Linked DNA regions of Homo sapiens: region 2 is linked to region 1. The links come from fine-mapping of genetic effects on gene expression. A gene starts in region 1. The other region holds a variant in brackets. All regions are shown on one strand. Distances are between the middles of the regions.

Region 1 (15,828 bases):
TAGGTGCACACTTTTAAACAACCAGATCTTGCCAGAACTCACTATTGCAAAAACAACACCAAGCCATCAGGGATCCATTCCCATGGCCCAAACACCTCCCACCAAGCCCCACCTCCAGCATTGGGGATTACAATTCAACATGAGATTTGGGTGGGGACAAATATCCAAACTGTTTTAGCTTAAGAGATCACAATTTTCTCTCTTCTCTTCTATTGACTCCTTTCTTCTTATTGATTCCTACCCTATGATATACACCCTCATCATCTTATCTATTTTCATACATTCAAATCTTCAGCTCTTTTTCCATTTATATCCCTTTTCTCAACATCTTACACACAGAACAATCAGACTAGAAATTCAGGGCAACTAAAACCTCCATTCCAGTATTTGCTGCCACCTTTTACACATTTATATAATCACGTGAAATTCAAGGTGCAAAGCTGAACTCATTATCATCCTTCCCAAAATGACTTCTCCATTTTATGGCACCATCAATTTCATTGTCCCTTAGGACAGTAATCTTAAAGTACTCTTTTCCTTCTAATCTCCTTAATACTGTACTATTCTTTTTCCCATGTCTCTCACTCCCTTCTTCCAGTCAATTAATGCCTCAGTGATTATCTGATGGATGCTGGGGGAAGCGGATGTTAAAAATGGGTAAAACAGGCCTCCTGCCCTCAAGAAGCTAAAGATCTAGTGAAGGGGGAAGAAACTGGACAAAGAACTAAAGTAAGACAATGGTAACTGCAATTTAGAAAATAATAAATAAAGACGTAAAAAAGCAGAGAAGGAAGCAATAAATTCCCACTGGGATAAGGAAAGATCTCCAGAAATGGCATGTGACCTCAACCTTAAAGAATTAGGACTTCTATAGATAAACTGTGCTGGAAATGCAATTCAAGGCAAAGGAAATACCTACGCAAGGTCAAGCGAATATTAAACTACATGCCATGTTCAAGGAATAGCAAACATTCTTCTTTGACTGAAAGATTCTCAAGTAGGGGCATACAGTCTCCACGGAGAAAGAGGTGGAATGGGGGTTGGTGCTTTAGACTGGCAAACTCTCCCCAATCCTCTCTGAGAAGGACTGTATGTAATGAAGTGAACTATGCAGAGAGGCAGATATATTGAGATGTGTATGGTTAAAATAGTACAGAAGAAAACCATATGGGAGTAAATCAAAAAAGGCCTTGAATGCCAAACTAAAGAAATGTGGACTGTATTCTGTGAGCAAAAATTAGCCTAGAAAATGTGTGTATGTGTTTTGTTTTGTTTTTTTATTTAAGAGAACAACAAGATCAGATCTAGATTTCTGGGAAATAATCCTGGCAGGCATACAGTAGACCGAGTGAAAAAAGGTGAGAAGATATTACTGCCACACGATGACATAATGAGGATATGAACTGACAATGGGAACAGAAGGAGAGACTGAATTCAACAGCTATTTCAGAAGCTAATCAGAGGAGTTTAGCAATACAACAAAGAGGATAAGCAGCAGATCTCTAGCTTGAATAACAGAGGATGGCGGAAATACCTAGAATGTGAAAAGTGGGTACACTTTGGGGTGCAAAGTTTTACACATCACAACTCTGAGATGATTATCAGACACATACCAGTCACTCACTAAGCCCTGTGACACTGGTTAAGTTACCTGTTTGAGTTTTAGCCCTTTAAAATTTCAAAGCCTATATTCTCAACTGTAAAACAGAGACAATAAGTGTAGCTAAAACAGCTGAATATTAAGTAAAATAATGAAATCAGTGCCTGGCACAAAACTAGTATTATAGTAATAGTATGTATAATAGTAGAATGTGGAACTTAAAAATGCCCATAAATTTTGCAAGAGGTTACTAGCATCTTTTAAGAAATTATTTTCAGTACAGAGGGAGAGTTTTGCTTACAAGACTTTGTTAAGCAATAAAGTTGTGGAGTGAAGACAAACTATTCTGTCTGTAGAGCCTTCAAAAAAAAGTTTTTGTAATATTGTCGTTATCATTCCATATCTCCCACTTTCAGCCCATGCCTAACATAGTACCTGGTCCATGTGAAGAACATAAAAATTGCTTGCTGAACATGAGAAAACTGAGCCAACTGTAAGGGAGAAATGAAGAGAAGATCTTAGTTCTACAAAGAATCTTGAGGAAACAGTATTAGAAGCATAAACGTTTTTCCAAGTTACCCTTGGAAAAGAATAGCAACGCTTTATTCTTTGAATCAGGGTAAAGACAGTAAGTCTGGGCAGACAATTGAGGAATTCACACTGGATGGGCAGCCTCTACATTTTAATAAAGAAATAAAATTCACTGCATAGAGTGGGGGGACTACAAAATCAGTCTGAAATCTGAAGAAAGCAAATTAGATAATTCTTCCATTTTAATATGTATTTGACTTCATTTCTGTAGCCAACGCCATGGTCCAGTCTTCTATCATCCGTCAGATTATATCAGCAGCACCCTAGGCAGCTCCTCTGCTTCCTAACTTTCCCCTTCCCAGGGTATGGTATATTCCCAAGAGAGCACATATTTCCTTCCACTATGTCCACCATTATTCTTTTAAGAAGTCAACCCCTCTATGAGACTTCTCTGATCCTTTTACCCACCAGACAGTTAATCATTCTCTCCTCTGGCTACTATTGGGTTACCTCTGTTTCCTATATAGTTTGATTACTTAATTTATTTTTCCACCTGCAATCATTTCCTTATGTCTATTCCAATGAAACCCTTAAAAGGGGGAAAGAGTTTCCTCATTTTTATTCTTCCAGCAGTTAATTCAGCATCTGGTATATAAATGTTCAGTCAATGTCCATTTTGTCTAACTGAATGATTAAACAAATGAGAAAACTCCTAACCAGAAGAAACTGGAAAATAAAAAGTTAGAGTTCAGGGCCGGGTGCGGTGGCTCACGCCTGTAATCCCAGCACTTTGGGAGGCCGAGGCGGGTGGATCATGAGGTCAGGAGATCGAGACCATCCTGGCTAACAAGGTGAAACCCCGTCTCTACTAAAAAAAAATACAAAAAATTAGCCGGGCGCGGTGGCGGGCGCCTGTAGTCCCAGCTACTCGGGAGGCTGAGGCAGGAGAATGGCGTGAACCCGGGAAGCGGAGCTTGCAGTGAGCCGAGATTGCGCCACTGCAGTCCGCAGTCCGGCCTGGGCGACAGAGCGAGACTCCGTCTCAAATAAAAAAAAAAAAAGTTAGAGTTCAAATCTACATCATTTTGGAACCTTTCTGCTTTTCTAGGTATTAGACAGCAACCAAGAGAGTCAGTTTTTTAGTTCTTAGTGGAAACGTAAAGGAGTTAATCAAAAATTATAAAATTCAACTATACTTTTAAATAAATTATATTCTAATAATTATATTTGAACTAGTGTGTCCATATTCTGGGAATTCACTTTGAACACAATAATTAAAGTATACCAGGAGGGGTTTACCCAGGAAGAACACTGTATCTTTTCAAGTGATTCAGTACCAGTAAAGAGATGCACTACTGGACTGATAAGACAGTCTATCCTTGCAGTACAAATGGCGAGAGGAAGCATTTGGGCTTCAAAATACATTTTGGCATGCATTACAGACAGTATTTAATAATATCATTAGCAAATATTGGGGACTTTCACAAATTAAGTAGTTGTCTGAACAAAACTCAGAGCAACCATTACCAATACGCTGACTGTAAAGTCTACTATAATGAAGTTCCTAAACTAGATAAAAATTAATCCATCAACAATTTTTAACTGAGGCACTCTATGTATGAACCACAGCACTAACACAAGTACCAAAACCAACGAAACTTAGAATTCTTCTGAGCCTCAAGAAGCTTGCAAGGCTAGCCAAGTCATTATTAAATAGTATGAAATGTCCTGGTGTCAGAGACAAAAATTCTAAGGTTCTATGAAATACAGTATCACATTTTATCCTAAGTGAATATAACATACTGCACTTCGCTTAGACTTAATTTATTGGTAATGTCACAGATTGCTTTACAATTGTTATATTCAAGAACTCTAACTCAGATAGACTATACCCAATTAGTATAACAGTATGTTTCAAAAAAAAAAGAAGCTCGAATACCATAATTCCTTATTAACAAGTTTATAATATTCAAAACAACCGTTTAAAGTATTTTTAATGTGAGTTTTAAAACTGTGATTTCACAATGTAGGAAGGCAACTAATGTTAAATATCACTTACAAAGTATCCGGTCTTATGCCAAGTACTTTAATTAAGAACTAGCTCATTTACTTTTCACATTCTTAACCCTTTGAAGTTATCTCTTATTTTAGAAATGAAGAAATCAGGGGTAAAGCAAGGTCAAATAACTTGCCCCAAATCACCCAACTATTAAATCTCACAGCTGAGGTTACAATCCAGAATGATTTGACTTTATAGTCAACTCTCTTTTCACTACACATTGATGGATCCTTTAGGGATTACAATGACCATGTCCTCTATTTTATAATGAGCTTTATTAGGTAACTACACAATGAATCTCTCAAAGATTAAATTTAAAAAATAAGAATAAAAGCAAACACTGCCTTGGCATTAAACAAAAAAATTTTTGGTTGCCCAAACTTTATCTTTTTACATACTGTAATCTAATCCACAAACAGCTGCCCTTCAGCTGCAACCCAAACTGCCTCACAGTTCTCAAATTATTACTAAACTTTAATTCCTCATGAATTTTCTTCAAGCCTTCTTTGAACAATGAAATGTCTGTCACAACAGCAACTTTTTAAAACAATAGTATCACTATAAAATGACTGATTCAGATTAATTCCAAACTTCCTTATGATTTAGAAATACAGATCTCAAACAATCCCTCACTCTTTATTTTTGCAATCAGTTTTAAATGGCTGTGTATACTTTATTCCAAACTGAAGTACATTTTGTCAGGGCAAGCCGAAAACAGCATTTTCTGCACTATCTATATTAACCTGGAAATACCTATGGACATAGGTGCTTACTAAATTCTCAGTTAATATGGCATTTTAAATAGTAAACAGTTACCTGTGTGCCTCAGTAAAACTGGAGTAAGCCAAAATTATCAAATCAGATGTGTACCTAAGCTCTTCCACAACTCAACATTTTTGACACCAAGCAGAGAAACCACTATATATAGGAGCTCGACGAACTCAATTTAAAATACAACTATATATTTCCAGCACCACATCTGAGCAGGTTTTTAATGCACAAGTTAAACTCAAGTTTATTAAGGGCTCCCTTCACCTTCATCTAAAACACATATGCCTGTATATAAATTAAATCACTCACTAATTACATCTTTTACAGACCTGAAATTGTAGAAGTTATCCTTGTTAGGAAGTTTTCTAGTGAATCTATTTTATATAGATTTTTCACATGTGTGTTATAGTCAAGTTTCCAAACAGTTGCACAGAAGTCAAAAGCTTTACATCTTTCTATACTAATTCTCAAAACCGATCTGCTGAAAAAAATGGTGGAAATTAGTGCATTGATAATCTAATTAGTAGCCATTTTCAGGATTTAAGCTCTACTATATTGTATTATATTTTAGAAACTGTCTTGTAAAAGGACCTAGTTCACCCAAAACTAAGTCCCTGAACTTTCAGAATAAAATATTAAGTTATAAAAATGTACTCTTGTAGCTAAGTGAAAGCTGACCATTCAGTTTATAAAACAGTAATCTTACATCGTGATAAGCAAAATAAAACAAATTAGAAAATGCACTATGCTTTCACTCTAGCCGTTGTCAACAAGGAGCCCAGCTTTAACAAATTACTGTAGATAACAGTCATTACGTCAGGTACGACATAGGGTAAAAAACTGATCTCATACAGAATGTCTACAACAAGTTTTTTTGTTTACTTCCTAAGGTGTTTTATAGACCTCAGAAACTGATTCTGTACAGCTGAACCGGGTTACACTCCAAGCTACAGCCCGTGTGAAATATGACTTCGTCGGAATCAGTAGGCTCAATCCTGTTTACCGTGGAAGAGAAAAGAATCTTGTACGTAACTACTAAATCTTCAACGAGATAATGTCGAATAAACTCTAGTACTGTAAGTGATAGAGGAAACACTGGCTAGTAACGGGATTAGGTCATTAAAAATATCACCCGAGTTTCCCCAGTTCGGAAGGTGTAAACAAACCCATCTCCACTGCAGAAGGTAAACAATGAACCTGCAGCAGGGTGAGGGGGCGGTCTTTAGCCAACTACAGTCCCAGCGGCCCGGGAAAGGGAAGCAGAAGGGAAACAGCATAAACCAGACATTTAGCAGTAATGACCAGTTCTAGGTTTCACTACCAAGTTATCAATGCTGCGGGTCCCCACAGGACGGTGGGCAAAGGGGAAAGCAGTCACGCAGTCGGCAAGCACCGAGCAGGTCCGGCTTCTGCTCCGGGGACGGGGAGGGCAGGATGTGGTCGCTCTTCCCTCAAACATCCTCCTGCAACCTAAATAACAGCCTCTACCTCCCTCCAGCTGCCCCTAGCTTGGGCTGCCGGACTCCGGGATAGGTGCAAACCACTCTGCCGGAGCTCGAGCCCAGAGGGTCGCCGGGTCTGCCGAGTTCCACTCGGGGCTCCCCCGCACCCGCAGCAGCCCGAGGCCCGGAGAAGGGCTCGGGCGAGGGAAGCGGGCGCTGGGTAGGGGGATGGGTCCGGCGAGGCGGCCCCGGGCTCGGTTCCCGCGGGCCGGCAGGCGGGGCTCCGGCTCTGGCCCCCGCACCCCGCCGGTCCCGTGCGGGGCCCGCCCCTGCCTCTGGCCCCCAGCCCCGGACCCGGCTCCTCCCCAGCAGCGCGCCCTCGCGGCGCCCGCGGCGCCCCGCGTTACCTCGGGTCAGATCCAGCGGGACGTTCTCCTCGCCGCTGTCATTCCGCCCTGCGCGAAACAGACACACAGCCCCAATTAGGATTGGCTCGCAGGCCAGCTGCGGCTGCCCTGGCTCCGGCCAGCGCCCCGGCTCGCTCCCCAACCCAGGGCCAGGGGAAGGCAAGTGCCAGGGGTGGCGGGCGCCGGGCGGTGGGGAGTGAGGGTTGCAGCGGGCTTACCTCGTACTCGGAGGTTCTTCAGAGAGCGGCCGCGGCCGATCGCCGCCATATTGACGGGTTTCAGTCACAACACCGGAAACCTCGCCCAATCGCGCGAGAACCCCTTCCCCTCCCCGCGCGCCGCGCCCGCCCCCCGCGGCACCTCCCCCGCCCCCTCGGCGGCGACGGCGGCGGGTGGTGCAGGCTCGGCCCCAGCGCTGAGGGAGCACTGAGCCGACCCAAGGTCTGCAAGGAGTTCGCGGCACCCGCCCGCCCACGCCGGACCCGGAGGGCACGTCCGCCGGGAGGGGCAGTTCCCACGAGGAAAGTCCCATTGATGCGAGTTGGCAGTGTAGAGGATGCTCCCCTCCGGCCGCCGCGGAAGCCGTCGTCCAAATGCAGGCGAGCGGGGAGGAGGAGGCCGGGATGCGGCCGGCGGGCCACCTGCTCTCGCCGGCCTGCCAGTCTCCTGCTTGCTCTGAAGCCCTGCCATAGACGGCCCCGCTCCCCCGTGTATCCACTGAAACATTTTTTTATAAAAACGCTGCGCACAGTTTTAGACTCCTTTCCTGGAATCGCTTTGCTCCAACTAAGTTAACACGTAACAAAGTTTGTTTTCCAGCCTCGCCCTTGATCTTCAGAATGCCCCTCTCGGCTAGGAGGGCTTCTCCAAGTGGAAGTGGTTAGGCAGTTTTGTTTTTGGCCGCCAGGCGTAGGACGCGAGAAGGGGGTGCAGCGGCCGGGGACCAGGGCGGCGGTCCCCGCGGTGGGATCGCGCCAGCGCCGGGAGGCCGGGGAGAGGGTGTTCTCTGCCGGGAGCCGAGGCGAGGCTGCTGGGTACTGTGTCCGGCTTTTATGGCTCTGCAGCTCCTAGGATCGTGGCTCATGCAGGTGTTGTGGATTAATCTATTTTATGCATAAGCCTATTAACATTAGGGATTTTAATTCTAGAAACTGCTTAGTTAATACGTATGTGTACACACACACACACACACACACACACACACACACACACACACACACACACACACACACACACACACACCTGGCCACTGACCCAGCAGCTTTCTCTTGAACTACATTTACTTTAAAGAGAGGAGCGATTTGTCCTCTCCAGTTCCTCAGCTCATCTTTCTATTCCATGAGACTGAAAGTTAATTAAAAGTGGAGATCTAGCCTTAACCAGTTCTGTTTTCCCAGCTCCCAGTTAATGCAATATCTGGCACAAATAAGTATTCAATAAATATCTGTTGGATGAGTAAGTGCCCTGGATTTCTAATTTATTCCAATTCTCTGCTTACTTTAAAAAAGAAAAAAAAAGCAATATTGGGGATATTTGTTGAAGTTGTTAATAAGAGTGAACATTTGGAAACACTTAAATGACCAAAGGTAGGGATTATGTAAATTATGTCAACGATTAAAAGTGAAGAGGTAGACTTAGTAATAGGAAATAATGTTCATGATATTAAATCAAGCAAAATATTACAAATTTCCTGTTTTATAATAAAAGTTTAAATATGTACGAAATTAAAAATATACATTATAAAATATTTTATATGTACATGTATGTTGAAAAAAGTCTGAAAATATACATGAAAATGTTAGCTGATTTTCTCCCCTCATTTGTGGAATTACACGTGCACTTTTTTGTTCTTGTTTGCTTGTCTCTACTTTTTAAATATCCTATAGTTAATATATGTCATTTGTAAAATAAGTGGTAAGAAGAAAAATAAAAGGAACATAAAGTAGCATCATCTGGAAAATAAAATAGGAACACTGCTTCCTTAGAATATTGCCAATTATCTATATATTCCAGTTCTTTTTTTTTTTTTAAACCAAGTCTACAATCAGATATCTGCGGCTGATACTGCACTTAGATTTAAGGATGTAACACAATTACAGTACTTTAAAGAAATGTCTTCTGGCATTACCAGTAGTAGTTTTAATGTCAACAAGCGTGCTCCCTCCGTTATAGCTTTAAAAATCTTGGTGCAATTTATTTATTCTAGTTACTGCCTAAAACAAAAATCACAAAACTTGAGGTCTGGCAGAGGGTTGGATTTCAACCCTCCATGTATCACCACATTTCACCCTTAAAGAAAAGTAGAGATCTATCAGTAGAAATTATACCAGATTCTTACAGTTGTTCTGATTTTCAACAAATCTTTTATCATATTATAAAATCCCTCTATATTCTACATTAACTCCTTCCTAATACAATTTAACTTCATTTTCTCTCGGTGTTTTATGAAAGTTGAGTACAACTAATCTACTTTTAAGTTACTTGAGGTACATAAGTGCCTAAATCCAGTAGTATTTTAATCATTATAACTGTATGCTATTAAAGACAATTATTCAATTACTCTATTTCTTGCAGGAGAAAAAATTACATTCAATCTTTCATCGAAACTAGTTTTTTCTCTGTTACTATTTCAGTCGTTTGAGTGGTTAGGTTCTCCATATTTGCTCTTAGAGTGAATGGCAGGTCTGGTGAAAAGGAACAAGTTATTAGTGTTTGCAAGTGACACTCAACTAGGAAGCAGAAGTTTAGATAAATTTTAGTAAGGAATACATTTTATAATGTGTTTGCTTTTTAAACAGTAGCACTACTTTATTGTTTATAGTCAGATTGATACTTGTTAAAACCCCTAAATTTTCTTCTTTGATACTTGCCAATTGCTAGCTATTCCTCCTTTTGAAACTTCTTTTTCTTCCTTGCATCTTTTAGCCGACCCATATGACTTACTCATTTTGTTTACTTCTTACTACTTCTCCAATTTTTATTTTGATTCTAATCTGGTCATTGAGAATGTGACTTCCTCTTCTTAGTTTTCGTTTCCCAGCTAGGTTTCATTTGCTGTGTCAGTGACTGTTTTTTTTTTTCTGGTAGTATTAGTCATTGATAAAAAATGTTCTATAAGAAGATCGAGTCCAGGACCATACCTTTGGAAGATAACTGCTTAATTCTGAGGATACAATTACTCCATTCATAGTCACTCCCTTGGTTCTATTCTCTACCCTCCTGCATGCAGTTAATAATTCTAGTATATAACTAGAATTCTAGTAATAATTCTAGTATGTAAACCATATTTTATCGGTTTGGGATACAGTTGTAATACTGAACAGAAACAAAAGCCTTATCAAAATCTTAGTTCCCTTTAATCTCTCTGCCTTGGTACATAGGCCATTTGAAGATAAAGCAAGTAAAAAGCCACAAAATTTGGTCAGACTATTTCTTGGTAACTTCATAGTTAAACCGCACATTTGAGACATCTAAAGGCCATTTACACGACAAGCAATGAATTAAATTTAACAAATGTTACAATCCCATCCAGTGTTAATTATGTCTTGGTCACAGCAGAACAGAGCCCCTGAGTATTGTGTCTTTAAATTTTAATCTCTGTCCCAAAATCTCATATAAATTTCCTTTTAAATAATTCTTTAAAGAGACTCTCTATGACTAACAGTTTTAAATGAAGAATAAACCTATGTTTATGGAAGATGAAGATATGTTAAAAAATGAAATCTAGAAGGGTATGCAGTAAAATTTCAACAGTTATTATCTACAGATGGTAGAATTTGGAGTGATTTTTCTCTCCCGTTTTCTCATTTTACTTGTTCCCAAACAAATTTTTACTCATGAATTTTTTTAGGAAAACTATTTTAGAAAAATTTTGTTGGCTATTCTAAACCAAAATTATAAACAGTTGATTATAATAATGACTTACTTAACAGGTCATTATAAACAATCAAAATTATTTGTGCATCTGTTCATTAAAAAAAGAACTTTTGCACATACACTGCAATACATATATATTCACTTTTTAAATTAAATTAGAACTTAAAACATAAACACAAAATAAAAATGGTTAAAAGTAATTTTTAATGTTATTTTACTAATGACACGAATACAAAGCAATGGGGCTGAATATACTTCATTATTCTCGACATTTCTTGTTATATACTTTGTGATACTGAAATTTAAAAGTCTAGTTCTAAGAAGAGTTTATGTGGGTATAGGGTTTTAATAGCTGAGACCTCACAAAATGCAAAGTTAAAAATGGAAGAACTACTGTATTGGCCGCATTTCTAAACCATAAAACTCATTTTCCCATTTCGTCCACCCAGTGATACAAAAGCTTTTTGAAATGTAATTTGGCTAACAAATATCCATCTTCCCTAATGTCAATCAGTTTTCCTATCAAACTAGTAATTTGGCTAACAAATATTCATCTTGCCTAATGTCAATCAGTTTTCCTATCAAACTAGAAGACATAACATTTAGAAATTTTCAGCAAAATGGTTGCAAAACCATTTATCTGAAAGATTTTGAAGCAGATTGGGAAACTCTGTTCCCATGATTTTCAAGTGTGCAGATATGAAAATTTATATATGTGACACATTTATATTTTAAGTTTTTTCAGAAAAAAATCACAAAACTGAAACACTTTCAAATATCTGTTTTCTAAATGCTCTCATCCTAGCACAGGTTTTTTGGAAGTATTAAATTTCTTAGTTATTGTTATCACATCTACCTTGAAGGGAAATTTTTTTTTAATTTTTTTTAAAAAATCTGATAGGTAACATGCTACTCGAAGCCACCAGTCATCATGAAAAAAAAGCTTGCCACTAAATAAATAGTAAACACCTGTATAATACAAAAGATTTTCTTCACCTCTCATTTCAAAGTGTGTGAAAATTAAACTTTTTAAAAAGTCTTATTTATACAAAATTATCACATGTGGTACTATCTCTGTACTTCTGTATGAACTCCTTTTTAAATTGATGGGAACTGCTTCATCGATTTTCATAAAACATTGTTCTTATTAAGGAAGTTGTTTACTGATAAGGACACCTGGTATTTGGTACTTTTACTTTGATGGCACAGAAAAAAGCTTAACAGAATTAAGCCAACACCGTAAGCTAAGACATAGTTAGAAATATTTATTCTTTCATTCAACTGCACACACAGCAAAGCTTGTTCATAATGCTTATTTGTTCAAATGCCTTTTTCTTCAAATCTTCAGCCTTCCCCTGCCCCACCCCTTTTTCTGCTTTGGTTGACCAATAGGTTTGCGTTTTAGTTTTGTCAACAAATATTTTTCTCTGTTTTTTTTTTTTTATTCCCAGCCATTTTTTTAACCACAGTAGGAAATAGCACTATATTCCCAACTGATATGTTCCTTTTTGTCTGTTGCTAATAAGAAATCTTTCTCTTTTCACAGGACAGGGTGGCTCATGCTTGTAATCCCAGCAGTACGGGAGGCTGGGGCAGGAGGATCCTTTGAGCCCAAGAATTCCAGACTAGCCTAGGCAACGTAGCAAATCTCGTCTCTACTAAAATAGTAATAATAATAATAATAATAAGTTATCTAGCATGACGTCATGCTCTTGTAATCTCAGCTATTTGGGAGGCTGAGGTGGGAGGCTCACTTGAGCTCAGATTTTTCAAGGCTGCATTGAGCTATGATCACACCACTGCACTTCAGCCTGGGTAGTAAAGCAAGACCCTACCTTGAGAAAAAAGAAAAAAATCTGTCTTTTTGCAAAGTAATGGATTCAATATTGCATGACTTCTAACATCACAGAAAAAATACAGAAAATTATCTTTATTTTCTGTTTATGTTAAAAATATTTTGCTAATCTGGTAGCTTTATAATAGCTGACATCTCAAGGAGCAATATATAATTAGACTCAGATAATAGTGAAGGATAATGCATATAAATTCATATTTCACATAATTCTAATATTTTTAATTTTAAAAAATGTTGGCTGACATTGTGACATCTGATTGCATTATCATTGCTTTTTCCTTGTAATGAAGCTGATAAAGTGCTAAAATCAGAAGTATCAAGTCTGCCATATTTTAAAACCTGTACTGTGCTTTTATTATTTGTGTTACATACAATTTCTTTGCAAGATTCTTCTTAAGCCGTGTGTACATTTTGTGAGGAATAGTTTATAATATCCTCCTTAAATCCACTTACCTAGATAAAGTATATGGCCATATGCCAAAGTGGAGAGAATTCCTGAGTCTGTTGTGAATTCTTCTGAGTTGTAGAACTCCCAATCTTCCCTCAGAATACTTATATGACTCATGTCAATTTAACCTTCTGACAAGATGACAGCTCCATTGTTAATATGTATAATAAATATTAATAGTTTACCTTTTTCTTTCATTTCATTTCTTTTCTTTTTTCTGTTCTCTCTCTTTCTTTCTTTTTTTTTTTTTTGAAGGGGGCACGTAGGGGTAGGGGACTAAAAAAATTCCTCCAAATTCCTCCACAAAAAAAAAAAAATAACAAAATAGGACACTGAAGTCAGAGTGAGGAGCAGTGAGCAACTAGAAAACTGGAAAAAAGGTCCTCTCTAGCTATCTAGATCTGAAGACTAAGCCACTGCAAGGTAGGAAAGCAGAACATCAGGCTCTTGCGTTAAGTCCAGGATCCTAGAAGTGGACCAAAGTGGACCCAGGTTGGTAGTGCCCCCTGGCTTTCAGCAGTAGCAATTACAAATCCTTTTTGGGGAAAGTCCATTACTTCATCAGTTCCTAGGATCGTCACATATCAAGATCAAACAAATAAAAGCTCACATTCAAAGATCATTAAACTCATAGAAAAAACTGACTATGAGTAAGAATCCGTATAAATCAAAATAAACAGAATTCTATGCCAAGGACTTCAGATATTGATGATATGAAACAAAATACAAAGTAGCTATTCCATATTAAATAATTTTTTTCAAATGAATTTATTATTCTATCCATGATAGAATAATGATTGTTGGATGTACCTTCCTACAATAAACAATTGTTAATTTAGACAAATATATGAAACAGCAGTGTTTAGGCACTGGACAATAGTGTGGCACTATGACCTTGACATAAAAGGAGCAAAAAAGGTGAGTTTCACCTTCCCTCCAGCTTTGAAAATGCAACACAAAATTTGTGGAACCTAAACAGAGCAGCAGTCTCACGGAATGGAGGAAAGAAAAACTGAAGTCGAGATGAGGGGCATAATACCAGAGATGAGAGAGCTGTGCAAAGTAGGAGCTCCAGAAATCTGCACTGGGATCCCTTTGCTTATTTAGCTGAATTTTAAGCTGAACAATCATAGGGTAAGACTCAGTGAAACATGGCAAAGAACAGCCCCTGGGGGCTCTGAACTAAATGGAGATTCCAGAGGTTGCAGATTGCTGAAAGACATCCAACCGGCAAGTAAAGAGACTTTGGTGAACACTTTGAGTATGCAAGTAAGACACCCAAAAGGCTATACGTTAGGAAATGGGTTGCACTGAGATCCCACAAAGGCCATAACTTATCGAAAAGGATACATCAGTCCTAGAATAAGGCTGCTATAGATATACCTAAACAGAGTTCAAAGTCAAGCCCCAATAGGATCAAGCTGATCTCCCAATAAATTAACTAAAGAACAGGGTTTAAAACTAAACTCAAAAATACAACAACAATATTCCAACTCTCCGACAAATCACATTGGTAACGTTCAGCATACAGCAAAAATTTTATGAGATTTGAAAAATGAGGAAAATGTGACTCATCCTCATGAGAAAAAAATCAATTAAAAACAAGACCAGAGGCCGGGTACAGTGGCTCACGCCTGTAATCTCAGCACTTTGGGAGGCCGAGGCGGGCAGATCATGAGGTCAGGAGTTCGAGACCAGCCTGACCAACATGGTGAAACCCCGTCTTTACTAAAAATACAAAAATTAGCTATGCGTGGTGATGCATGCCTGTAATCCCAGCTACTCAGAAGACTGAGGCAGGAGAATCGCTTGAACCTGGGAGGCGGAGCTTGCGGTGAGCCGAGATCATGCCACTGCACTCCAGCCTAGGCAACTGAGTGAGACTTCATCTCAAAAAGAAACAAAACAAAACCAAAACCAAAAACCAAAAAACAAAAAACAAAAACCAAGACTAGAGAAAGCATGGACATTGGAATTAATAGAGTTTCATAAATATGATCAAAGATTTAAAAGAAATGTTGGACACAGTAAGTAAACAGATGGATACTCTCTAGAGAGAAATGTATTCTGTAAAAAATAACCAAGTGTGCATTTTAGAAATGAAAAACACTGTGCCAGAAATGATGATATATTAGTCAGAAATTCACTAAATGATGACAGATTGTACCCTAAAAAAGAAAAGGGTTGTGAATTTGAAGACAAACCAACAAAATGCATAGAGAAGAAAAAGACTGGGGAAATAAGGAAGAAGAAAAAGCCTTAGTAACCCATATAAAAAAAATCAGGCAGTCTGAAATATGTGTAACTGAAATCCCAGAAGCAGAGGAGAGAGAGATTGGGGCAGAGAAAATGAAGTAATAATGGATAAACCTCTAGCTAAATTGACCAAGAAAAAAGAGACAAGCAAGAAATAACAAATATCCAAAATGAAGGATGGGCCATTAGCATAGAACCTATAGATGTTAAAAGTATAGGAAGGGAATATTAACAACTTTATGCCAATAAATTTGTTAACTTAGATGAGGTGGACCAAATCCTTTAAAGACAGAAAACACCAAAGCTTACTCAAGAAGTTATTTGGTAGATATGCAAAATGATTATAAAGTTTATATAGAAAGGCAAAGGTCTAAAATTGTCAGCACAATACTAAAGAAACACTATCTGAATTCAAGACTTACTCTAATGCCAGAGTGAAGACAAGACAACTTTAGAGAAAGGATGTATATATAAACTAATAGGACAGAAATGTGTTAGTCTATTCTCACACTGCTATAAAGACATACCCAAGACTGGGTAGTTTATAGAGAAAAGAGGTTTAATTGACTCACAGTTTCTCAGG
Region 2 (15,828 bases), 94 kb after region 1:
TACTTCAGTAACTTTTATTAGAAGTTTTCTAAACTGCCACCTGTGCTCGAAATGACATGCTAATTGCCACACATCTGACCATTCTGTTAAAAGCAAGATTTAAAAAAACTGCCTGCCCTTTTGAAGTGTGGTGTGGCTGTCCTGTGATTCCCTGGTGTTATCACCTAGCTCAGAGAGCTCTCTGTTTGTACGCAGAGCACTGGTATGTGTTTTCTCACACCATTTTTATTTTATTTAAAATTACCATAAATTACTTTCTCATTTATTTATTCATTTTCTTCCTAGCTAAACAGTGAGCTTCTGAGGTGGGTCTCCACTGTCAACACCTGCGTATGCCCTATGACACTGCATGTATCACACATTTAATGTTTCACTGATTGATTTTCTTTTTCTTTTGTCCTTTTTCCATTTAGAAAACAAAAATAATTTAAAAAAGCAAACTGTAAAATAAATATCTGCACAGTAAAACATTTAAGAAAATATAGGAGGGAATGCTGAAAAGAAAAACCCCTGTTCTAGACCCCCATAGTCTAGTTACAAGCCTCAAAGACAACAGTTGTTACTAGTTTCTTAGGTATATTTCAAGAAATATATTCTATGTATTTTTTTACAGAAATGGAACCATGGTATATACATTATTCTGTACTTTGCTTTCTTAACTTAATTTTAAAAAGATGTTATATATTGGCACAAAAAGAGCAATCTGGTTTTTTTTTTTTTAAATGACAGTGGAGTTCTCCATTGCATGGATTTACCTTATTTTATGTGACCAGTCTCATTATTTCTGGTCACTTAGGTTATAAAAATAACCACTGAAGTATAAGTCACATAAATAAACTGGTTTAAAATATACAACTCCATGGTATTAATATATTTACAGTTGTGCAACCAGTACTATAATCTAATTTTAGAATATACACATCACCTCAAAAATAAACCCCTGTACTTACTGGCAGTCACTCCCCATCCCTATCCCCAAACCTTGCTGCCATAGGCAGCCAATAATCTATTTTTGGTTTCTTACAGATTGGCTTATTCCAGATATTTCATGTCAACAGAATCATACAATATGTGGTTGTTTGTGACTAGTTTCTTTCACTTAGTTGTTTTTGCAGTTCAATTATATTGTAGCAGATATTAATATTACTATCTTATGGCTGAATCATATTTCATCATATGTCACATTTATTTATCCATTCATCAGTTGATGAACATTTAAGTTGTTTCTATCTTCTGCCTGTTATACAGAATGCTGCTATGAACGTTAATGTATGTCTTCGTGTGGACCTATGTTTTCATTTCTCCTGGGTAAATACCAAGAGTAGAATTGCTAGGTAACTCCATATTCAACCTTCTGAGGAACTCTGGATTGTTGCTTATTTTATGCTATTTTAGACAATTACAATTATAAAATTTTTCTTGTATGTATGTCTTTGACTGCAAGCATAAATGTACCTGTAGGATAAATTCCTAGAAAGTGAAATCGGTAGGTCAAAAGAACTGAGCATTAAAATATTTTGGTAGGCTGGGTGCTGTGGCTCACACCTGTAATCCCAGCACTTTGGGAGGCCGAGGTGGGCAGATCATGAGGTCAAGAGATCCAGACCATCCTGGCCAACATGGTGAAACCCCGTCTCTACTAAAAATACAAAAATTAGCCAGGCGTGGTGGCGCTTGTCTGTAGTCCCAGCTACTCGGGAGGCTGAGGCAGGAGAATCGCTTGAACCAGGGAGGCGGAGGTTGCAGTGAGCCGAGATGGTGCCACTGCACTCCAGCCTGGGCAACAGAGACGCCATCTCAAAAAAAAAAAGTTTTGGTAAGTAATGCCGTTTAGTGATTTTTTTTTTTTTAAACAAGTGGGAGAATACCTGTTTTACCATAACTTCACTGGCATGTATATTATCACACATTTTTGGTCTTAATAATCCTGATAGGTAAAACATAAATGCTATATCAATTGGATTTTCATATTTATAAGTGAGACTGAGCATTCTTTCATATGTTTATAAGACATTTTATTTGTGTGAGTATGTCTTCTTTATAAAGAATATTAGAAGTACAGCATCCTATTTAATTAAATAGCTGGAAAAATGAACATTCTCTTTTATGATTGGTATTTGATATAATACAGAGTTTCATATACAATACAAACATATTAGTAGATATTGTTATGTAGGTAAAAGTATCATTAAAAATTTTCAATCCTCGGCAGCCTTCAAGTCTAAGGACTTGAAACGCCTGGGTCACAGACTTAGAAAATCTAGTTTTACGGAATTTTTCCTTGCCCTAATTCAAAGCCATCTGCTCTTATCTTCAAAGGATTTGTAAACCATTGTGAATGGGAAATTTTGAAAACCAATTTAGTTGAAAACAAAGCACTGTAATTATATTAGTATGAAATCTTTTGCTTTGAATGCAAACTGCCAAGAAAATGTTAGGCAGCTTAGAACAGTCCAACAAAGTGGAAAGAAAAGTAATACTGAAACATCAATGTTTACATAGATAATCAAAGCTGAAATTAGAATGGAGGTGAAGAGGTAGAGATCAAAACAAATCTAATGATCAATGAGAGGAAAATAAGTACAGAAAGGCTTTGATCACTGTCATAAACTCTTCCAACTCAGATCTAACTTTAACATTCAATGTCTCTGAATAATTTTTTCAACAGTTAAAAATTCACCTCCCCAATAACTTTGTTGGTTATTCAATTATATGTAATCATGAAAGGTAAATTGTTTTTATAAATGAGTTTATTCATTTTCCAGTCATAAAATAATATGAAATTCAAATTAGGCGGTAATTAGACAGGATATTGCTGACTTTTGGATCTTTTTTTGGAAGGTTAAGTGTGACTTTAAGAAGGAAAAATGTCAGCATATAAGAAAAGTTCTTTGTCAGATGCTCATAGATTACAGGGTGTCTCTTCCCTCCTCTAAGATACAACATATTTGGGCATAAGGCAATAACTGAATATTCTTCAAATATGAAAAGTTATTTTAAAAGTGTACTAATAACTTCTATAGGAGCAAAGAAAGCACTAGAAATCAAGTTTTAGAAACATCCTCAGATGAACACTTTCAATTTTTGAGGGAATAGTGAATGTTTTGGCTAAATCAACAGTAGAAATCCTTTGAGAACACTTTTAGGATAAAATCAATATAAGCCAGTAATATAACATCTATAAGCAGAGAAGGAATAAACCTTGATGTGCAGAGGCAATAGCACATCCTCAGGGAGAGAGAGGGGCAAACAGAGGAGAAATAAAGCATGTGCTCCAAATTCAGCTGTCTGTGGGTGCCAGGCAGGAGCATGCCTGTGTGCACTGAGCTGGGAGCACGTGACCATGGTGAACAGGAAACTAATGCCCTGTCTCAGTGGGTGGCCACTGTGGGGCTCCAGCCCACTGTAAATATGTGAAGAAAAAGACTAGATTTTTCTATAAAATCCTCTACTTTTTGAATGTTGGCAACTATTAAAACAAAAGAAATCAATCAAACAAAAAACTCTGCACACCCAACACAGCACATTTTTGGGCTACGTTCTTTTTTTGTTGTTGTTGTTGAGATGGAGTTTTGCCCTGTTGCCCAGGTTGGAGTGCAGTGATGTGATCTCAGCTGACTGCAACATCCACTTCCCAGGTTCAAGCGATTCTTCTGCCTCAGCCTCCTGAGTAGCTGGGATTATAGGTAACCACCACCACACCTGGCTAATTGTGTATTTTTAGTAGAGACAGGATTTCACCAGGCTGGTCTCGAACTCCTGACCTCACGTGAACTACCTGCTTCAGTCTCCCAAAGTGCTGGGATTACAGGTGTGAGCCACCATGACTGGCCTGTGCTACATTAATTTATGACATACACCCTTTTTAAGTAAAGAAAGAGAAAGCCTCGCAAAGAAATTTTAATAAAGGAAATTGCCTGACCAGTGTGGTTCATCCAGGAAGCAAGCTTTTCCTTGCTAAAACTATGAAGTTTTGAAAGGGACAAATTAGACCATTAGACCAGGCAAAGAATTGTAATGCACTGGAGAAAGAACTAGAATTGCCAACAAAGAAGGCAGAGCTTCCCTGTAGTGCCTGGACAGAGCAAGTGTTCTTAGCGTGACTCAAAGGGAGATAAAGTGACTATGACTCAGTAAACCTGTAAGAAGCACAACTACATATACAGACATGTGACAAGAGAAGGTACTCAGTTAAGTTAAATATTTGCTACTTTTGCTATGGCAATGACTATTGTTGCCATTGCTTACAAAAAATAATCATAAAATTCATATGGAAGCAAAAAGAGCCCTGAGTAGACAAAGCAATCCTAAACAAAAAGAACAAAGCTGGAGCCATCACATTACCTGTCTTCAAATTATACGACAAGGCTATAGCAACCAAAACGGCATGGCACTGGTATAAAAATAGACACATAGGTCAATGGAATGGAATAGAGAGCCCAGAAAGAAAGCCACATACCCACAGCCAACTGATCTTTGACAAAGTCGACAAAAATGTACACTGGGGAAATGATACTCTATTCAATAAATGGTGCTGGGAAAATTTGACTGCCATATGCATAAGAATGAAACTGGGCTCCTATCTCTCACCATACACAAGAAATTAATGCAAGATGGAGTAAAGATTTAAATGTAAGATCTGAAGCTATAAAAATACTAAAAGAAAACCTAGGAAAAACTTATGGTCATTAGCCTAGGCAAAAATTCATGGCTAAGACTTCAAAAGCAAATACAACAAAACCAAAAATAGACAAATGGGATTTAACTAAACTAGAAAGCTTCTGTCAGTAAAAGAAATAATCAACTGAATAAGCAGACAATCTGCAGATTGGGAGAAAACATTTGCAAGCTATGCATCCAACAAAGGACTCATATCCAGAATCTACAATCAACTCACAACCCCCAAAATAATTTCATTAAAAAGTGGGCAAAGGACATTGAACAGATATTTTTCAAAAGAAGACACACATGTGGCCAACAAGAATATGAAAAAGTGCTCCACATCACTAATCACCAGAGAATTGCAAATTAAAACCGCAATGAGATATCATCGTACAGCAGTCAGGATGGCTATTATTAAAAAATAAAATAATAAGAGATGTGGGCAAGGATGTCGAGTAAAGGGAATGCTTATACACCGTTGGTGGGAATGTATATAAATTAGTACAGCTTCTAGAGAAAACAGTATGGAAATTTCTCAAACAACTAAAAATGGAATTACTGTAAGATTCAGCAATCCTACTACTGGATATTCAACCAAAAGAAAAGAAATCGGCCAGGAGCAGTGGCTCATGCCTCTAATCCCAGCACTTTGGGAGGCTGAGGCAAGCAGATCACCTGAGGTCAGGAGTTCAAGACCAGCCTGACCAACATGGTGAAACCCCTTCTGTCCTAAAAATACAAAATTATCCGGGCCTGGTGGCAGGTGCCTGTAATCTCAGCTACTCGGGAGGCTGAGGCAGGAGAATAGCTTGAACCCAGGAGGTGGAGGTTGTGGTGAGCCAAGATTGTGCCGTTGTACTCCAGTCTGGGCAACAAGGTGAAACTCCGTCTCATAAAAAAAAAAAAAAAGAAATAAAGATATCATTTTACCAAAAAGACACCTGCACTTGTATGTTTATCACAGTACTATTCACAATAGCAAAGTCATAGAATCAACCTAAGTGTCCATCAATGGATGAAACTTATAAAATGGATGACACTGATAAAGAAAATGTGGTATACGTGGAATACTACTCAGCCATAAAAAAATAAAATTATGTCTTCTGCAGTAACATGGATGGAGGTAGAGGACATTATCTTAAATGAAATAATTGAGAAACAGAAAGTCAAAAAGCACCTGTTCTCACTTGTAAGTGGGAGTTAAATTAAATATAGACGCGGACATAGAGTGTGAAATAATAGACCCTGGAGACTGGGAAGGGTGGGAGGGTTGGCAAGAGTGAGGGATTGGAAATTAATTAATGGGTACAATGTACACTATTCTGGTGATGGTTATAATAAAAGCCCAGACTTCATTACTACACACGGTATCCATGAAAAAAAACCCCTGCACTTTATCCCTTAAATTTATATAAATAAAAAAAGAAAGGAGGGACCCTGAGTCAAAATATAGCACATAAACATAAGATGATAAATCAGGTTTTAGAGGAGAGAAAGATATATAAAGTTGGTGCAAAGGTAATTGCGGTTTTTGCCATTACTTTTGGTAAAAGCTGCAATTAACTTTGCACCAACCTAAAAGAAGAAAAGACACAGAAGGAAAAAAATATAAAAGCCACAAAGAAGTAGTGGGGCACAGTGGAGAGAGCGAGCGTTTTGAAATGAGATGATGCGGGGATCAAGCTTCTACTAGAGGTGTGATCTTGGGTAGTTCTCTCTCTCTCTCTGTCTCTCTCTCTCTCTCCCTTGTTTTTGTTTTTGTTTTAAGTTATTTTTTATTACACAAATAATACATGACTCATTTCTGGAAGAAGCTTTACAACACAGATAAAGTAGAGTTTCAGATGACCTCTCACTCCTCCTTGCCCTCTCTTTCCCAGAAACTACCATTGTTTATCTTTGCAGAACTTTTTCTAAGTGTTTACTGACCTTTGTATGTATGCACAGGAATATCTGATTAAAAACCTAAATTGCTCTGCATGCTGAATATTGTGCTGCCTATTCTGGGCCTATCTTGTTCTTTGTAAATGTTCCAGAGTATTCTGTGTTAGGGATAGTCCAGGTTTGTTCAGTCTTCCCCCTTGACTAAAAACAATGTAATGTTAAGCATCTACTTGTGCTTTTCTGTGTAACTGCAGGGCAGTGGTGGGGGGAAGTGTTCTAGGACAGAGATCTAAAAGTAGAATTGCTGAGATGAAAGATTTGCATATTTTATTTTCCTGTAGGATCTGCCAATTGTCCTCCAGTGAGGCTTCAGCAATGTGCCTCAATGAAGTCTTGTCTCCTCATACCCTCTCCGTCACTGGACGTTTGTAATCACTTTTTAATTTCATTAGCACAATCACTTAATCCTCCAGGGCATCAGCTTACTCTGTAAAAAGGCAAAAATTCTACTCCACAATAAAGTTATGACAATTATATTATTTAACAACAGTGCCCATCACAAACTCACAAAAGACACTTTATAAATGTTAATTCTCTTCCCTTATTATGGATATTTTAGTGAAAAAAAATTAGTCAAACTAGATGTGTCTCTGTGTAACTTTCTTACGGTGCTAATAAACCTTTGCAATTGGTAGCATGTGTTTAACTGCTGAGTAAGCCTATTTTTTTCAAAAACTTTTAGCCCACATTCATATTCCATTTTTAATTAAAGTGCCGTAATCAGGAATATTTCTCTTGAGTTTAGCATTGCTATATTATCATGTCATGTATTATAACTCAGTTTTCCCACTACATTTCTTCTTTCAATTACTGTAAAACCTTTGTTTCTGTAGTTCATCATGACAATGTTTGGCCTGCACTTGTTAGCCTGAGACAAGTAAAGGTGTATTTTAATGACAATTAATGAAAAAGTTATTCTTCCATTAACTTTTTTTTAGACTTTCACTGAATGAAAACATAATGTAAAAAATTGTGTAAGAAATTTGTGGATTTCTGAGAATGTCCAAAGACCTTGGGTTGATCTATACTGCCCTAATTGCCACAGTTAGGTTATCAATTGCATGTAAAGATACCTCCACCTTATTTATCTAATCTGTATACTTTGCTTAATAATTCTAACTATAATATCAAACAATGCCAGGTTTTACAGCTTCTAAGTCTAATTCTTAAATCTTGTCACTATATTATAAAAATTAAGTTAAAAACCGTAGTCACATTTACTGTTGTGCATATAATCGTGTATAAAGTCCAAACATAATAGTCAATTGGTGAAATGAACACATAATTAATGAATATGTAATAATCATTCATATTAATTCCTTTTTTCTTTTTTTAATCAAAATAGGAAACTTTTTATTTTTGTCACTAAATACAATTAGTTTCCCTGATTGTAACCCATTATCAATGTCACCTAACATATAGATGGTCTGTACAGAGGTGAACACCACCAGCATCTTTCTCTACATGTATATTAGGACCACTGAACTCAGAAAAAGCAGAGTTGAGCTTGTTAAATTATTGTCTCTTTTAGAAACTCTTACCATTTAAAGGAAATAGGAAGATTTAGGTAGCAGAATACTTGCATAATAACTTAAAAAGTTAAAAGCTTGTAGTGATAAAATAATCTTGTGCACATTCTCAGAAATTTTAGGCAATTGGCCTTCTTGCAGATCCCAAGTTTAGAAAAAGACAACTAATCATTGCAACATCTGGGCTCAGTTCATTTGCCATATGGTTGGTCGTGGTGCATTTCTGGTGTATAAGTCAACAGAACAATCATGACCCAGAGGTGAAGCCAAGCCATATATATAATCACAAAAACTCATGCTATGGGGTATCTTTGGAGAAAAATTCCCAGACGAATACTAAACCGG[TC/T]AATTGAACTAGCTTTGTGAATTTTTCCGTACATTCCTGCCAGATTAGTTTCTGTGCCATTAAAAAGAACAGGAACATTTCACAGAAGAGTGCCTTCACCATTGACAATTTCAGACATATTAATCGAAGACCCGTTACTACTACTTCCAGAGGCAGAGTCCATCTGCTGTTTGAGGTGCTCCAGTTGAAAGACCAAGGAGGGCCAGATGCAGTGGCTCACGCCTGTAATCCCAGCACTTTGGGAGGCCGAGGCGGGTGGATTACCTGAGGTCAGGAGTTCGAGACCAGTCTGGCCAACATGGTGAAACTCTGTCTCTATTGAAAGTACAAAAATTAGCCGGGCCAGTCGAAGGTTAGATAGTTCATGTGATTTGCCATCTTCATTAGGTGTTGGGATGTGCTCAGTGCAGGCAGCATTTGATGATGCATTTTCCAAAAGAATTTTCTTCAGTGGTTTTGATGGTGGTTATACTGGGGTTCACAGAACTAACACTTGACGTCCAAGAACTCTGAAAGACAGGTGTCTTTCCTTTTTCCTTTTTGATTTCCACCCTCCCAGTAGGCTCCTTCTGTGAACTATTAAGGAAATTAAAGGGCAGCTCATCATCAGGTTCTGACTTTCTTGTTCACACAAATTGGGATGAAGGCCTAGGAACAGATGAATTTTCAATAGGATGAGAGGCCTCCACTGGTGTCCTAGATCTTACTTTCACATTTGCAGTGCCAGCTAAGATGGTGGCTTTTTGATTTCAAATGTTATCAGTTGCTGATGAAGTATAAGTAGCTACAGGTCAAGTCTGATATGTCAAATCTGTATTTGAACTTCTGTGAAGTTCAGTATAGTCAGTATTTTTGCTATATATGATGTTGCTGGTGGTGGTGTCTTTCCTACTGAGAGCTGTTGCAGCCCCTTGATCAACTCAGTTTAAAAGATCTTCTGTCTTTCCAGCAAGATCAACAAACCAAGACATGATGGCAGCAGAATAATCCTATTGGCAAACCTGAGGACTCTGGGCCAGCTGCACCGTGGTCTTGTCGCCGTCCTGGGCCGGACCCCCTCAGCAGCAGACCTGGAGGGGGCCCAGGCTGAGTAAACTTCCCTCCTTTTTTCTGATTCCCTACATCCAATACATGAGAATTCCCCATTAATGCTACAGCTGAAACTCATTCTAGATTCATCCATTTCTTTCTCCTCCATTTGACCTCCCTTGTGCAAACTTCATCATCTCTTATCTGGACTCTTAACAGTAGCCTCCTCACCAGTTTTTTGGTGTCATTATTATTTGCCTACAGCTGATGCTCTACACAGGAAAAAGAGGTCCTAAAATGCAAACCAGACTATAACATTCCTCTTCATTATGGCTCCAATTTCAATGTCTTCCTATCATAAATTCCAAACTGTGACCTTCTGGATCTATGGAATTTGGTCAGTGCCTACTGCTCCAGCCTCATCTGGAACCATTATTCCTCCTTCATCTGTGATATTCCAGCCCATCCAAGTCTTTCTGTTTCTTTAACCCCATAAAGCTTGTTCTTACCTAAGGAATTTGTACTCCCTGCTCTCTGATCAGAACGCTCCTTTCCCCTATTATTGTATTACCATTCATGTTTCTGCTTAAGTAAATTGCTTAAAAGAATTTTTAGACTGGGCACGGTGACTCACACCTGTAATCCCAGCAGTTTGGGAGGCTGAGGCGGAGGGGTGACATGAGGTCAGGCATTTGAAACCAGCCTGGCCAACATGGTGAAACCCCGTCTCTACTAAAAATACAAAAAAATTAGCTGGATGTGGTAGCACAAGCCTGTAATCCCAGCTACTCGGGAGGCTGAGGCAGGAGAATTGCTTGAACCTAGGAGGCAGAGGTTCTAGTGAGCCGAGATCGTGCCACTGCTCTCTAGCCTGGGCAACAGACACTCTGTCTCCAAAAAAAAAAAAGTAAACCCTGAAGATAGCATTTATACATTTTCTTCTATTATAGTATAGAACAGTAGTTTTTAAGTTGTGGAATCAGGACTCGCAGCATCAGCATCACCTGAGAACTTGCTACAAATGCAAGTTCTTAGGCCTCATGCCTGACCTACTGAATTAGAAACTCTGGGTCTGGGGCCCAGCAATCTGTGTTTTAATAAGCTCTCTAGGTGATTCTAATGCACACTGAAGTTTGAGAATCACTGATATAAAATAAATGGTGGGTACACATGTCTCATTTGAAGTTCAACCTAAAGAGGCAACAGGCAGGCTGTGAAAAGACCAATAACTTCAGAAGTTATTGCACTACTGAAGTGCAATATTGCCTGGTATATACTATCGTCACCTCCCATTCTTTTGTTTTGAAACACAACTTATTTGTTTGCAATTCTTAATAATACCACGTTAACTACCAGCTGACACTTTCAGTTAGTATTTCATTGTCTGAGAGTTCCTTCTGGCTATCACTTGCCCTTTCTGCAAGAGCCAAAGCATACGTGGGCCAAACATTTGCTGAAGTAAGAGAACCTGGGGATTGTAAGGTGGGAAAAGCCTTGTTAAGATGCCATGGCATTACCTCTTTTGTAATTGGACAAACGAGGAAGTGACAAGCAGGGGTGAAGGATGGTAAAGATAATGAGGAGAATCAGAAGTCAACTTTAGGAAATAATATATTGAAAAGATTGGGGAAAACAAGGCAGCATGGTGAGGAGCAGTCTTTAATGCATTCTTTATATAATATGAACCACCAATTTTCTACACAGAAAGGGAACAGAATCAGACAAAGCAGACCCACTGAAAGGATAGAATCCCTTTTTAAAAAAATAATTTTGGCCGGGTGTGGTGGCTCATGCCTGTAATCCCAGCACTTTGGGAGGCCGAGGCAGGTGGATCACTTGAGCTCAGGAGTTTGAGACCAGCATGGCCAACATGGTGAAACTCTGTCTCTACTAAATATACAAAAATCAGCCAGGCATAGTGGTGTGCACCTGTAATCCCAGCTACTTGGGAGGCTGAGGCAGGAGAATCACTTGAACCTGAGAGGCAGAGGTTGCAGTGAGCCGAGATCATGCCACTCCATGCTAGGATGGGCGACAGAGCAAGACTCCATCTCAAAAAAAAAAAATAGTAATTTCAACTTTAATTCTAGATTAGAGGGTACACATGCAGGTTTGTTACATGGGTGTATTGTGTGACACTGAGGCTTGGGGTCCCAGTGATCTCATCACTCAACCAACAGGTGGTTCTTGAGCCCACACCTTCCTCCCTCCCTCCTGTGTCTAGTGGTCCCCAGGGTCTATTGTTCTCATCTTTACATTCATGTGTATTCAGTGTTTAGCTCTTACTTATAAGTGAGAACATAAGGCATTTGGTTTTCTGTTCATGTGTTAGTTCGCTTAGGATAGTGACCTTCAGTTCCATCCATGTTGCTGCAAAGGACATGACTTCATTCTTTTTTGTTGCTGCATAGTATTCCATGGTGTATATATACCATATTTTCTTTATCCAATCCACTGTTGATGGGCACCTAGGTTAATTGCATGTCTTTGCTATTGTGAATAGAGCTGCAATGAACCTACAAGTGCATGTGTCTTTTAGACAGAATGAATTATTTTCCTTTCGGTATATACCCAGTAGTAGGGATTGCTGGGTTGAATGGTAGTTGTGTTCTACATACTTTGAGGAGTCTCCAAGCTACTTTCCACCGTGGCTGAACTACCTTACATTCCCACCAACAATTTATAAGTGCTCCCTTTTCTCTGCAGCCTTTTCAGCATCTGTTGTTTTTTGATTATTTTAATAGTAGCCATTCTGATTGGTGTGAGATCGTTTCTCATTATGGTTTTGATTTGCATTTCTTTGATGATTAGCGATGTTGAGCATTTTTTCATTTGTTTATCGGCCACTTGTACAACTTCTTTTAAGAAGTGTCTGTTCATGTTCTTTGCCCATTTTTTAATTAGATTTTTTGCTTGTTGATTTAAGCTCCTTGTAGATTCTGGATATTAGACCTTTGTCAGATGCATAGTTTCTGAACATTTTCTCCCATTCTTTAGGCTGTTTACTCTGTTGGAAATTTCCTTTGCTGTGCAGAGGCTCTTTAATTAGGTCTCACTTGTCTGTTTTTGTTACTGCTGCAATTGCTTTTGGGGACTTATGGGGACTTATCCATAAATTATTTACCAAAGCCTATGTTGAGAAGGGTAGTTTCTAGGTTTTCTTCTAGGATTTTTATAGTTTGAGATCTTATATTTAAATCTTTAACCCACTTGAGTTAATTTTTGTATATGCTGAGAGGCAGGTGTCCAGTTTTATTTTTCTGCATGTGGCTAGCCATTTATCTCAGTATCATTTATTGAAAAGGGAGTCCTTTCTCCATTGCTTATTTTTGTCAGTTTTGTCAAAGATCAGATAGTTTGTAGAAGTGTAGGTTCATTTCTGGGTTCTTTATTCTGTTCAGCTGGTCTATATGTCTGTTTTTGTACCAGTATCATGCTCTTTGGGTTACTGTAACCTTATAGTATAGTCTAAAGTCAGGCAGTAAGATGCCTTTGGCTTAGTTCTTCCTGCTTAGTATTGCTTTGTCTATTCAGTCTTTTTTTTGATTCCAGATGAATTTTAGAATAGATTTTTCTAATTCTGTGAAAAATGACATTGGCATTTTGATAGTGATAGCATTGAATCTGTAAATTGCTTTGGGCAGGCAGTATGGCCATTTTAATGATATCAATTCTTCCAATCCATGAGCATAGAACATTTTTTCCATTTATTTGTGTGGTCTCTGATTTCTTTCAGCAGTGTTTTGTGGTTCTCCTTGAAGAGGTCTTTGACTTCCTTGGTTAGATGAATTCCTAGGTATTTTATTTTCTTTGTAGCTATTGTAAATGGGATTGTGTTCTTGATTTGGTTCTCTGCTAGAATGTTGTTGGTATATAAAAATGCTACTGATTTCTGTACATAGAATCCCTTTTGGGCCTATCCTATATCACTTATAGAACAAATGACCAAGGAATCAGAATTTCTGTTCCTAGAGATAGAACCATAAAACCCTAGGACTGAAAGTCTTTGAATTTACTGTTCCAGTGCTTTTTATATAATTTGGCATAAACAAACCAGTTGATTATTTGTGAAGCCATCTTCCTGGTTCTGCACAGGACTTTAACACATGGAATAAGAATATCATTTAGACTTAGGGATGACATAGCATAAGGAAACCCTGAAAAACACTCTCCCTTTTTATCAAAGATGAAAAATCCAAGGTCCAGATAAGTTTAATAAATGATTTACTCAAGGACACAAAGCTTAAAAACATGAGCTCCCGGACTAAAATCCTGTTTTTCTTCTTTAAGTCTGAAGTTCTTTCTATCATGCCATGAAATCAAAATAAGCTCTTTCTCTCTTTTTAGTTTGTTTAAAAACCTTAAAAAGATAAAACATAAGCATCTTATTTTTGTTAGTGTTTTCAGCATCTCAATGGTGAAATAACTGAAAAGGTACATGTTACTCTCTAAGATGAAAGAGGAAGCTAAGAAGAGACTAGGCAAAATGCAAAGTCAACAACTAATAGACTAAGGGCGAACAGAAGCAGGGAGACCTCTTCTCCCATAGAGAAACCAGTGTCTCAGCTTTTCTTTGTGATGAGGAGTACTGTAAAATTTTTTAAAAGTTATGGTTCTATTTGTTTGCTTGCTCTTACCTGTGTGTGTGCGTTTGTGGTGGGATGATTATTTAGGAGTAAGCAAGATTGACAAATAAACAATAAGGAGGAGGGGAATTGCTGATAGTCAAGTCTCTAAGCTGGGGAAAGGGAAAAGGGGCATGAGGTAGGAAAAGAGAACAGAATGGAGATCCAGCCAGGCAGACACTACATTGGCTATTCAACCTTCTTTAAGGAGAAACCAAGAATATGTCAAAGAAGGAGCCCAGTTGGTAGGCGTAGGGAGTTTGACAACAGCAACTGGGTTAGACATCTATCAGACAGGGAGACAGGGTTTGGAGAAGACTCCGGTTGATTGATGACTCTGATATAAGCGGTGAACATTGTTGGATTGAGTTGACACCATTCTATCAAGAAAGTGACTCACATGGGCTGGAGTATGCCGGTGTCCAATGGTTGTAACTAGCTGGGGGCTTCTTTTGACTCATTGGGGAAAACCTCTGCCTTCTTCTGGGACTTATAAAAGAGAAGTGACAAAACTTGCTGTGAAAGCAGGTAGAAACGCTGCTGTGTAATTTAATAATAGGCTCAACAATTTATATGCCCTTTTCATGCGGGTACATGCTGTGTGGAATGTTTCTGAGAGATTTTAAACTGCAGGCTCCTAACTACCCAGTATTCTTCCTGGCCACTCCTTAAAGAATGCTGGGCAGAAAGGAATCTCAGAACTCATTGGCTGGTGCCTCCAAATGGGGGTAGGCAGTACCAGCTTTCAAGGAAGTGTTTGGAATTGAGTGCTGGTGTTGGGGGAAGGGGTTGCTTTTGGTCATTACAATAGTGAATAACCTAGTGAATGCTACTGGCTTCTTAGGGGCTCAAGGTCAGGGAGTCTAAAATTCCTATGATAGGAGAATTCTAATGGATAAGGAATAGTGTGTCCCAGACATCAGTGACATTCAAGAATATGGAATCACTCATTTTATAGCTGAGATCCAGAAGGATTATGTGCTCCAGGGGCCGGTACAGAGCACAGATCAGCTCTCCTCAAATACAGCCTCCCTTCTACGGGAACTCATTCTAGTGCCCCACAGTGGCCTCTTCATATTTGTTGTCTTGTGTTCAGAGAATCCCAAGTCATTTTTTTTCTGTTTTTTTTTTTTTTTTTTTTTTTTTTTTTTAAAGACAGAGTCTCACTCTGTCGCCCAGACTGGAGTGCAATGGCGCGATCTTGGCTTACTGCAACCCCCACCTCCTGGGTTCAAGTGATTCTCCTGCCTCAGCCTCCCGAGTAGCTGGGATTACAGGTGCGCACCACCAGGCCCAGCTCATTTTTGCATTTTTAGTAGATACAGGGTTTCACCAGTTGGCCAGGCTGGTCTCGAACTCCTGACCCCAGGTGATTCACTCGCTTCGGCCTTCCAAAGTGCTGAGATTACAGGCATGAGCCACCATGCCAGGCCCCAAGTCATTTTTATATTTGCTTAAGAACAACATGTTTAGAAAGGCACACTGCTGCTATTACAATCATTAACAAAAGATAATCTATACTTTGAAATAAAACAATGAAACATTTAACAACCTGCAACTTTGGATGATCATATGATTGGTCTTCATTTCTTGATTATTCTGACTGGTGTTTCTTTAAAAGTGCCAATCTTTAAAAAGATAAATGCTGTTTGTCTCTCAAAACAGTCATAAATTGTGGGAAAGGAAACAAAGA

Alleles and levels. Alleles are on the strand shown, and positions count from the first base shown. SD is a standard deviation of normalised expression in the study named.
For the expression in fibroblasts of the gene that starts at base 7,099 in region 1, T is the high allele of the variant in region 2 and TC is the other (small effect, 0.35 SD a copy in GTEx).

Evidence for each region. PIP is the estimated chance that this variant, and not a neighbour inherited with it, causes the effect. A credible set is the group of variants that fine-mapping cannot tell apart.
Region 2: its variant is the best candidate, but not a certain one, in a credible set for the expression of RICTOR in fibroblasts (GTEx, PIP 0.87).

What each region holds. Positions count from the first base shown.
Region 1 is chr5:39,067,301-39,083,128 of GRCh38, forward strand. It overlaps RICTOR (RPTOR independent companion of MTOR complex 2), which reads right to left and starts at 7,099. Exons shown (of 38, transcript NM_152756.5): 1 at 7,029-7,099; 2 at 6,811-6,858. The coding sequence starts at 7,077. RefSeq lists enhancers at 5,932-6,458, 6,985-7,511, 9,848-9,947 and a silencer at 6,397-7,296.
Region 2 is chr5:39,160,882-39,176,709 of GRCh38, forward strand. The region is part of intron 2 of FYB1 (FYN binding protein 1); the gene reads right to left. It also overlaps the pseudogene GOLGA5P1. Among named protein-coding and RNA genes, the nearest start is that of FYB1, 51 kb to the right of the region's middle. The variant TC/T (reference allele first, on the strand shown) is at 8,481.